Linked DNA regions of Homo sapiens. The protein of the gene in region 3 interacts with the protein of the main gene of each other region in a pairwise test. Each region holds a gene or a part of one and is shown on either strand. Other genes may lie near its edges.

Evidence for each region.
Region 1: the proteins of MPP1 (region 3) and SGSM2 interact in a two-hybrid assay, tested with the Homo sapiens proteins (one large-scale study listed by BioGRID and IntAct).
Region 2: the proteins of MPP1 (region 3) and MAP3K20 interact in a two-hybrid assay, tested with the Homo sapiens proteins (one large-scale study listed by BioGRID and IntAct).

The regions. Positions count from the first base shown.
Region 1 is NC_000017.11:2,361,501-2,365,149, reverse strand, and holds part of SGSM2 (small G protein signaling modulator 2), read right to left. Parts: intron 3,514-3,649; coding exon 3,351-3,513; intron 3,042-3,350; coding exon 2,880-3,041; intron 2,313-2,879; coding exon 2,245-2,312; coding exon of another isoform or gene 2,162-2,244; coding exon 2,016-2,161; intron 1,686-2,015; coding exon 1,551-1,685; intron 1,151-1,550; coding exon of another isoform or gene 1,092-1,150; coding exon 967-1,091; intron 555-966; coding exon 487-554; intron 254-486; coding exon 93-253; intron 1-92.
Region 2 is NC_000002.12:173,260,717-173,264,365, reverse strand, and holds part of MAP3K20 (mitogen-activated protein kinase kinase kinase 20), read right to left. Parts: intron 3,304-3,649; coding exon 3,229-3,303; intron 622-3,228; coding exon 471-621; intron 1-470. UniProt on the Homo sapiens protein: Stress-activated component of a protein kinase signal transduction cascade that promotes programmed cell death in response to various stress, such as ribosomal stress, osmotic shock and ionizing radiation.
Region 3 is NC_000023.11:154,798,896-154,802,544, forward strand, and holds part of MPP1 (55 kDa erythrocyte membrane protein), read right to left. Parts: intron 999-3,649; exon of another isoform or gene 862-998; coding exon of another isoform or gene 850-861; intron 1-849. UniProt on the Homo sapiens protein: Essential regulator of neutrophil polarity. Regulates neutrophil polarization by regulating AKT1 phosphorylation through a mechanism that is independent of PIK3CG activity.

The DNA.
Region 1 (3,649 bases), on a different chromosome or scaffold from region 3:
GCCGCTCCTAAGAACTCCACGTGGGGAAGGAAGGGAGGCGGGCAGAGAACCCCACACACAGCCCTTCCCCTAAAGCCTCCCACCCGAGTTACCTTCCCTTGCTGGGTCCACAGCGGGGGCTCTAGCTGTCCCCGAGGCAGCAGCCCATTCTCCAGACAGGACAGAAAGGACAGCAGGTGTCCTCCCTGTGGGAAATGCAGCGGCGGCCTCTGGATGCCATCCTGGCTCACCAGCACAAGCGTGCCACCGCTCTCTGGGGGTGAACGTGGAGAGTGCGGCTGAGGCCCTCTCGTCGGCTATCACACCCTGCTGGCCAGTGCCCCCAGGCTGGGTAGGAGGCAGATGGCTGGGCTACAGCATGGCCTGGGAGCCCCATTAACAAGGATGGGAGGAGGACGAGGAGTCTTACAGGCCCCACGCACAGTGCACAGCTGGCAGAAGGCAGCCTCTCCCTTCCCACCCGAGCCGAGGACAAGGCAGGCTTACTTTGCTGGTGGCAGTGGATGCACACGACCTGGCTGAAGGGCACCACGAGGGCATAGTCCCAGTAAACGCTAGAAAGGAACCAGACTGCTGTCACTGTGTCCAAAGACCTGCCATCCTTCCTTCCTTCCTTGTCTCCTGGTCCTACCACCCCACGAAACTCCCCTGAAGATAGGATGACCATAGCCAAGAGGTGCACACAGCCAGCCATGACCCCTGAGATCTGTGCTGCCCGCTCGGCACATGGACAGCTGTCCGTCTCAGCCGCTGAGAGCTTGGCTCAGACAAACCTCTTCACGGCCAGGCTTGGCTCCGTCCTAGAGAGCTTGGGAATCACTCCAGGCAGCCGCTCCCTGCTATTCTTGGCGTCCAAATAAAGAGTGAGGTTGGCCTCCTGGAGCAAGCGGGGTTTCTCCATCCCTCTGCCTGAGGTCAAACCCACTCCCTGCCCTGGCTCCTGGGATTGAGTCCCAAAGCCCCCACCTCTTTTCCAGCTCGGAGTCCCCCAGAGTCCCATTCATGAGCTGGTTGGGGGTCCACTTCAGAGTCAGGCTCTCTGCAGACTGGTGCAGGGAGAGGTAGCCAGGGACCGCCTCCATATCCTCCTTCTACAGCGGGAGACACCGGAAGACCGACGATGAAGGGCTGAGAGGCTCTCAGGGATGGCCTATGAGAAATGAGCTCCCGCTGGGAGGAGGGGAGGCCAAGCTAGGCTAGTCACGGGGTCCTGGACTAGGGACGGGGCAGAAGCACAGGAAAACAGGACTCAGTTTCCCTGGTCAGCCTGGTGCCACTGACTCTCTCCTGCCAGCCTCCTGGATGCCAGGTCCATTCCAGGCCAGCCATACCCACACTGCGGACTCCCCTCGCCTGCTGGCTGCCATTCCTGTCCCCTGCCAACTAAAGGCTGGGCGTGAGTCGTGTGAAACAGGGAGTTGGGAGGCTGGGGCCATTCTCCCCCCCGTCTCTGGTCAAGCTCCTCAGGAAAGGAATAGCCATGGCTAGAGGCTTCCAGTCGTCTCGTTCGGGGACCTTCGGGGAGGGATGGCAGGATGAAGCTTTCCTACCGGCTGCACCAGCACGTGGTTCTTGCCATAGAGCAGCCGCGTCCGTGAGTTCTGGTGCAGGGACTCCACACACTCGCGGGCACAGGCAGCCAGCCTGTCCTCCGACGCGCTGCCGCTTGAGTGCCGTTTCCGGATCTGTGTGGAAGGCCGGGGCTCAGCCTCCAGCCTTGGGAAACTGGCCTCAAGGCTTGGGAACCCTCACGCTTCCATGCTGACCCTCTCCAGCTGACCCCAGGGGTCCTTCCTGCCCCGGTTTACTCCCAGCCACCCTCTGCTCTCCAGCCACGGACCAGCATGGGCTCCCGGCATTTGTGTTAAGTTTTATTGTGCGGAGAAGGCTCTTCTGAGGCAGCCGCTACCTTGGGGCATCTCCAAGGCCTGTCCCGTAGAGAGGCCGGTTTCCCGTCCCTACAGGCCCATGGGCATAGCCCAGATGAGCCCAAAGGGTGGGGAGGGGGCACCTACCCCCAGGGCTGGGCGCTTTGCAGGGGAGTCCTGGCGAGTAGGTGGACCCCGGATGCGGTGCCGCTGGACCAGCTCATCAGCAGAGGGGTCAGTCCAGTAGTGATCGGCTGTCTTGAGCTTAGTGTATTCCAAGGCACAGGGTCCCACTGTGGAGACAGAGACAGCCAGCCCAGACGATGCTCCCTCAGCACCTGCCCCGTACCCACTGTGCCTGTGCTCTCAGGCTCACCTAGAAGAGAGGCCAGGATCGGGCCGAACACAGGGTCTGCCAGCAGTGCCTCCTTCTCGTAGTACTTGCTGCCAGGAGACAGACAGTGTGACTGCCGAGGCTCCGGGGCTCATTCCAGGGCAGTCAAGCTCACCAGGTAGGGACATCCCCACAAAGACCAGATTCAGATCAGTCATCAAGAAACAGTGAGTCCTTAGGGACTGGGCTTCGTGAGGTGCCTGGTATGGCCAATGCCTTGAGGGCACCGAAGGGGACGGGGAGATGGAGGGTTGCCTACAGGCTGTCACGGACAGGCAAGCATCCTGAGGGCTGGGGCTGAGGGACGTCGGGAGACGGGTCAAGGGAGGGGCTGCTTGGGGAACGAGGCGGTCACCTGCAGTTTTTGGGGAACGGGGCGGTCACCTGCAGTTTTTGGGGAACGGGGCGGTCACCTGCAGTTTTTGGGGAACGGGGCGGTCACCTGCAGTTTTTGGGAACGGGGCGGTCACCTGCAGTTTTGGGGGGAACGGGGCGGTCACCTGCAGTTTTTGGGGAACGGGGCGGTCACCTGCAGTTTTTGGGGAACGGGGCGGTCACCTGCAGTTTTGGGGGGAACGGGGTGGTCACCTGCAGTTTTTGGGGAACGGGGCGGTCACCTGCAGTTTTCCGCCAGGTATTGCACGACCTTGTCCAGAACTTTCTCGATGAGCGCCGTGCGTACCCATACGTGTTTCAAGGCCTGAGGGCTGAGGGCCGGGGCCTTCCCGCTGGCTGAGCCCTGTCTCCGCAGGGCCTCCTGGCTGACCCCTGAGGGTTTCCTGCAAAGGCGGGGAGGGCTCCAGGAGTGCAGTGGTCTAGGGGTAAACCCCAGAATGCTGGCATTGGGAGTGGGGCTTGGTACCCCAAGATGGGAGCACAGAGAACTGACTGGGGTTGGGAGGTGAAGGAGGGGTACAGAGCCTTGTGCCCACAAGGAACCAATCCCCTCCCTCAAGCTGATCCCTCACCCAGAGGCCCTGCAAGGAACAGGCCCAGGATGCCAACTTTCCGATGGGTGTCCTAGGAAGTAGCAATTGCCAAGTGGGAAGAGCTGAAAGGAGGGAAGAAGGGGCTGGCCCAGGGCTCACCTGCCCTCTGCTTGTTGCTGCAGCTCCTGTACCTTGTGGCAAATCTCCCCCGCCACTGGGCACGTCTTCCCCACCTTGGTGAACAGGGCTGCCATCTTGTCACTGCGCAGGAAGCCAGCGGCACGGCGTCTCAGCTGATGCAAGAGGCAAGCCTCCACTGCACCTAGGCCACAAAGGGAAACGGCATCTGAGCCTGGGAAAGACGGGGGAGCAGGAAGAAAAGCTCCTCTTCCCCATACCTGTGGTGAGGCAAGGGGTAAGGGCAAGCCAAGGGCAGGCCAGGGAGATACCCTGGCTTC
Region 2 (3,649 bases), on a different chromosome or scaffold from region 3:
GAAAGAAGGGAAGGTTCATTCCACTCTCTGAATATGGTTGAGCCAGCTTATCTTACTGCACCTGGAGCCTGCCCTACCTCTGGGCTTCTTGTTATGGAAGATAATAAATTTTATTACAGTTTAAATCAGTGGCTTAAGGACTTTAGAGTTGTTCTTAATCACTGGGAAGGCTCCTTAAAATGCAGACTGCAGCTCCTATCCCCAGAGTTCTGATTCAGTAAGTCTGGGTTTGGGCCTGAGCATCTGGATTTCTAGCAAGTTCACAGGTGATCCCGATGCTCCTGGTCCTGGGGCCACACTTGGGGAATTATTGGAGTAAGCCAGTTGCAACTGGGTTTTCTGCTACTCGAAGCTCAAAGATAGATCTTAACTGATTGAGGTGGTATCCTCTGAGTCTTTAGATCATCTGGAAATGTCATAATTAAGTTTCTGGAATCTAGCACACATCTAATACGGGAACACTAACTTACTTGAGTCGGACCTGCTTCCAGGGTTGCCATCTGAATTGGTGAATAATGTCTGAATGGCAAGTTGGACTGCTTTCACTTCATCCTGAGGTTTTGTTCTACTCCACTGAATCGAATGGACATGTTTAGTGCTTTTTGGAGTTCTAACATCACTCTGGTAAAACAAACAAACGAAAAAGACAAAAAAAAGACAAATAGAAACATATGACCAAATAGACACACATATATAAAATGGGAAAGAAAGTCATCCAGGTTATTATATCACTTCAGTTTCACCTCTTAGAACACTATCATAATGCACTAGGAAAATATTCTGAACAGTTGGCCCAAATATGCTAATTCAATGAAAAGAAAAATTTTAACCACTTTATTTCTTAGTGGGTTATAGCACTTATTCCTTAATGGATTATAACATAAATTTCTTAGTAAACTATAGTAGCTAAAAAATATGGTTGTCTTTTCCCAGAATTTATTATATTTGACAAATCTCAACTTACCTCTTTGTTTAATAAGAAATAAAAAATTACATCTTCTATTTATAGTACTTGATGACAGCTATTTTGTTGAATAAATGAAAATCTGACCACCATGTTTGCCTAAGACTGAATTTGGATCATCAAGGAAACTGAGTGAAGGTGGTGGGGTGAATTACCTGCACGGAGGGGAAAGGGTCTCAGATGCAAAAGTGAGACAGGATCAAGAAGTAAGAAATGGGGACCAGGAAAAGGAGAGGACACTAGGTCAAGACACATTACTTTCTTGTTCTGAAATCTCCCTCCTCACTAGCTGTCACCAATCAGTGTCAATTAAAGAGTCTCCAGGATTCAATATGGTTAGGGAAATCTGTTTTAAAAAACTCTGAAGTGAAAAACCCAGACAAAAGTGGCATATCATCATGGGGTCTGAAAAAGGAGGAGGAGGGAGAGAGAAGAAGAAAAAGAGAACTGGGTGTGCTGTCTCCAAAACTGTCTAAGGCAGGCAGAGGTAGAATCTGGTTGTTCTAATTGTCCGATTACTAACAAGAGGGCTTTTCCTGGGTAGTGAGGACCAGTTAACAGGCTGTAGAGTAGTCTAGTTTCCAAGTTCCTCAAGACCAACCAGCCTCTTTTGTTTGGGTTTTGCACCTTGCAAGCAATGCTTTGACAAGTAATATAACTTCTCAGATGCCTCATCCCTGACAACCTGTGCACCCCAGCAGGTGAGGATAAATAACTGCTGTAAAACTTTTTGGCTTCCAGCCTGGATAAGTGGACTGGCCAGAGTTTGTATTGCTTTGCTTTTCTTTTTTTTTTTCTTTTTTGAGACAGTTTTGCTCTTGTCTCCTGGGCTGGAGTGCAATGGCGCAATCTCAGCTCACCACAACTTCTGCATCCAGGGTTCAAGCGATTCTCCTGCCTCAGCCTCCTGAGTAGCTGGGATTACAGGCATGCACCACCATGCCCAGCTAATTTTTGTATTATTAGTAGAGATGACGTTTTACCATGTTGGCCAGGCTAGTCTCGAACTCCTGACCTCAGGTGATCCACCCGCCTTGGCCTCCCAAAGTGCTGGGGTTACAGGCTTGAGCCACCGTGCCTGGCCCAGGGTTTGTATTTCTAATATTGAAAAGCCAAATCCTGGCAGCCCAGGAAACCATCAAAATGCCACACTCACAGAGTCCTCTTTGAGGTGGACTTCATCTTACTGCAGCCACTGGGAGCTAACAGGGTAGCCAGGGAAGCGCAGAAAGTGTTTTTTATAGTCAGAAAACATGGAATTGACTTCAACAATTCTGTCAGTGAGGACCTCACACCTCAAGACTTCCTTTCATCTCTCTGAGCCTATTCTTCCTATCTGCAAAATGAGGATAATAATATCTTTCAGTATTTTTTTTTTTTTCTGGAGACAGGGGTCTCACTGTCTCACCCAGGCTGGAGTGCAGTGGTGTGATCTCGGCTCACTGCAGCCTCAACCTCCTGGGCTCAAGCAATCCCCCGACTTCAACCTCCCGAGTAGCTGGGACCATAGTCATGTGCCACCACACCTGGCTACTTTTTGTATTTTTTGTAGAGATAGGGTTTCATAATGCTGCCCAGGCTGGTCTCAAACTCTTGGGCTCAAGTGATCTGCCCACCTCAGCCTCCCAAAGTACTGAGATTACAGGTGTGAGCCACTGCGCCTGGACGATATTTTTCAGTATTGATTTACATGAAGTTAGTGTGATCAAACTGGTGTAAGCACCTCTAATAGTGCCTGGTTCATGGTAGATCCTTAATAAATGTTTCTTGAATGAATGAATTGATGAATGAATGAAATGCATGTCCCTTTGATGGTGGGTGCACACTAATATTTCCAGGTGTGCCAAGACTGTACTATAACTGTTGCCTTCCACCCACTCCCACCGGGTCTACGTACCTTGTAAGGTGTATGTCCTACCAGCCATGAAGATCTTGTTGATTTAAAAAAAATTAGTATTAACTATTAGTATCCCCAATACCAAACATCTTACATGGTATACAGAAGGTGTTCAATCCATAACTAATGAATGACTGAAGTACTACCTCAGTCGCTATCTGGGTAAGTTTATCCTGTTCTCTTTTCTTCCCAACACGTTGTGAGAGAAATTATATTGATCTTCCTATGTTCATGTTGGTTGGTTTACTCCCAATAAATTATATGCTCTGGGTATATCTCCCAATAAATTATATGCTCTGAGATAACAGATAAATTTATATTCATTAACTGATGGTGAGGCCACCAGCCTCTTGCCCCCAGAGCTTACCTCATATGTGACAGTGCACTCCACAGTCTGACTTTTTGCTATTCCTACAATCCACTTCTCCATTACAAATGGTGGCTGAAAAACAAAAGTTAGGATGGTGTAGTACCATAACACAGTCTGCTCTACTATAGTATGTTTCTTTGAGGCCGGTTGTGCCATACACAATTAGCAAATAGGGGCATAATATCAGATTATCATGAAAGCCTTGTTGGTTCTCATGTGATCACTCACAACATGCTAATGTTTGAAGTTTTGCTTTTCATAAGACATCCTTTTGTATATTTGTAAACAGCTAGTCATGGCCTCCCACAATCTTCTTTTCCGATATAACATTTGCTATCACTCAATCCTATCATTAGGTCATTAATTCTTGCTAAAGTTTGAAGCATCAGTTGGAAAACTTCCCAACAATTAAGAGAAA
Region 3 (3,649 bases):
GGCTAATTTTGTATTTTTTGTAGAGATGGGGTTTCTCCGCATTGGCCAGGCTGGTCTTGAACTCCCAACCTCAGGTGATCCGCCCGCCTCGGCCTCCCAAAGTGCTGGGATTACAGGTGTGAGCCACCATGCCTAGCTATGTCATATTCTTCTTATCCAGCTTTATTACAGTGATTGCTTTTTACATGTCAGCCTTTAAATTAAAGACTCAGCAAAGCTTACTAGAGGCAGAACCATTCCAGCTGGAAAAGTTCAAGAGTTGCCATCCCAAAGGTTGGTCTTTCAGATGTGCTTATCCAACAAGACGTTCCTCTTTACGATGACTAAGAGTCACTATCACGCTTACCCAGAAGTTGCAAATGATGACTAAGAAAAACGGAAACTTCCAACGTGGTAACTAAAGTACACACTTGCAACAGTAAGTTTTCCAAAAGCAAAGCACAATTTTCTCCACCGTGAACTTGTCCCTGAGCCACCCTGTCTTCATGAGACTCTCAGAAAGGGAGGGTCAGCTCTCTGTGACCTCATCTTACAGAACTCCTTCAACTAGTCCCCATGTCTCCTCATTACTGACACATCATAGGAGAAAAGATATGCAGACATATACTGTCAGTGACATGAGTAATGCTGAACAAATAATAAAGGTCAAAGGTACTAGATTCTATTTCTCAGAGTTCAGTTCACAACCTCCACATCATCCTCTCAAAGCAGCCACCATCATCTGTAGTGGATATAGGAGGCCACAGAGCTATGGCAGGCCTGCCCCTGACCAGTGACAAGGCAGGGCGGAAGTGGCTCTGTTAAGGATGACTGCTGGGATTCAGGAGGAGCCAGGGAATAAACACTCACCCAGGACTCCATGTCTGGCCTTTGTTCTGCAGCCTCTGGCCTTTAATCAGACAAAGTGCTGGAGTGGCAATGCCTGCCGCTCTGAAAGCCCCTTCAGAGGAAACATCTGCAGCAGGGTTCAAAGGGCAGAGGCAGTTGCTCAAAGGAAGCTGGAATTTAAAAAGAGATGAAAAACAAACTTGGCGGGGGGCGGGCGGTGGCGGGGGTGAATAGAGCAGGGGCAACTGAAGTTGGCTTTCTAATCCAAACAATTAGATTAAGTGACAGTGAACATAGGAAAGAACAAATATTTGCTCAGCCTACTGTTAGGCTCTTTGCCAACTGCTCCCACGTGGAGACTTAGAAAGCCAAGTCCAAGAAGGCGAGATGATGCCAGACAGCTGCCCAGCAAGCCCTGGCCCCAGGTGCTCGCAAATTCCCTCTCTTTGCATGGGCAGTATCCTATTCCACTTTGGGAAAAAACAAGAGAAACTGAGAAAGCCAAGGGTATTCTGAAGTATTAGAAAGAGATTAGCACTGTTTAACCACAAATGACAGGAACTAGGGAGAGAGGAAGGCCTAAGAGCCAGGATATTCTGGCAGGTACTGTCTTAAAATCATACATTAACCAGGTGCTTTGCTTCTCAGGTACTAAATCCATCTGGGAACACATACATCAACCTAAAGGCCAAGTCTCTAGAGATCCCTTCCCAACGAGCTTTTTCTACCCCATGCTCTCAGTACACATGCAAAGGCTTTTGCTTCCACTGGGGAAAAAAAACAACAGGAAACTCAAGTAGCACCGTTCCACACAGCAGAAACACAGGGCTGCAGATACCTGGCACTGAGTCCCCACACTGCCATTAAACCAGTGCCGGAGCTGTGTGCAAATAACAACACTCGTTAAATCAAATGCTCATCCCCATTCTGTGGTCAATATTTGAAGACATGAAATGGTTCAGAAACCTGTCTGAGCTTAAAGGATGAGTAAGCCTCAGACTCCAGAAGTTAAACTATAAGCATGGACTTTGGAGTTTGTGCAGGTACATGGAGAGAATGCAGGTGCTGTGTCCCTCACATAAAGGCTGCCTCTGCACTGTGCAGAATATTCAGAGATGATGGCAGGTGCTAAGGAGGAAAATAAAGCAGAAAAGGCCTCGCAAGGAAGATAACTTTTGAGGGAAAACCTATTATGTGTTTTGTTCATGTATATTTCTTCATATGAAAGAAAAAAAGAAAAGCAAGACTATGTTACGAAAGTTCCTCTTCCCCTCCTCTGGCGTCACTTCCCCTACCCCAGCCAATTTTGGAAATATGGCTATTTAGTCTTGCCTTTCTACACTCCACACCCAGAGTTCTTTTTTAGCAACACTGAAAGGTTAGAGACAACTCACTGCTTAGGAGAAAAATCTCTGCATCAACTAATTTTGTCTCCCCTCTTGACACTGTCTCAGGACATTATTGATTGTCACAACTTAGCGGCGAGGTATTACTTTTTACAACAGAATTATCAGACCCAAAGTGTTAACAGTGCCCAGGTTGGCAAACTCCAATTTAAGGGAATTGATCTTAACCTGAAATATCTGTTCCTGGTATTCTATTATACTTCAGTGTCTTGTGTAGGGAGAACAAATGAGTTAGAAAAGAATAGAACGTTCATGATGAAACTCAAATCTGCTTAGCCACAATAAAAGCAGATTCTTATCTGCAAGGTATCCTAAGCCCTTCCAGTTTTGAAAAAAAAGTCATGAAAGGCCCAGGGCGCTGGATCATACCTGTAATCCCAGCACTTTGGGAGGCCGAGGCAGGCGGATCACCTGAGATCAGGAGTTCGAGACCAGCCCGGCCAACATGGCGAAAACCTGTCTCTATCAAAAATACAAAAATTAGCCAGGCGTGTTGGCAGGCGCCTGTAATCCCAGCTAGCTGGGAGACTGAGGCAGGAGAATCGCTTGAACCTAGGAGGCAGAGGTTGCAGTGAGCCAAGACCACACCCCTACACTCCAGCCTGGGTGACAGAGCAAAACTCTGTCTCAAAAAAAAAAAAAAAAAAAAAAAAAAAACAAAAAACAGAAAAAAGTCATGAAGTTCCTGGAAGTGAAGGACAGGAAAGGCAGACTGGCTGAGACCACACCACATACTGGGGAAATTGGGCAGAGGACTAAATAATTTGAAAATTACACTTTACTTTCTAGTATCAGTTCTGTGAAAAGAAAAGCCTTGAACGGAACCATTTCCTTTGCAAAGGAAACAGCAAGATCCAAGTCTGCAGCGAAAGTTCTTTCTCAGGTGAAATTATAACTAGTCAGAAGCAGAGTCAGTGATCATGCACACCGTAGACTCAACCTCCTGCCATCGCAGAAGGTGCCGCACTCGGCATGCACCTTGGTGTCCGTGCACAGGCTGTTCCCTCTGCCCAGGTACCACCTGCCAGTTACAGCCTAGGTACTGCGAAATGCAAGAGCCCACTGTGCTGGGTGCCCCTCCTTGCTCCACAGCGCTCCACAGCTGCTTCTATCACATCACCACCACACTACTGTATTTGTTTCCATGTCTGCGTCCTTCCTTATTTGCCTCTTAGTTCCAGCAGCAGACCTGGAGTAGGCAACAAACAACACTGCGTCACACTCAGTGACCACCAGCGGGGAGTAATGCTGCATGTGATGGCCTAAGAACCAAGAAACAGGTTTTCTTGGTGGAAATTTGCCTGGAGCCTGACTTATCTGTTAGGTGATTTTTTTTTGATGTGGGATAGGCCCAAGAGAATTTTCAGGGATTCTCAACCAATTGCTTCAGGTCCTGGGGAAAGTGTTGCTTCAAA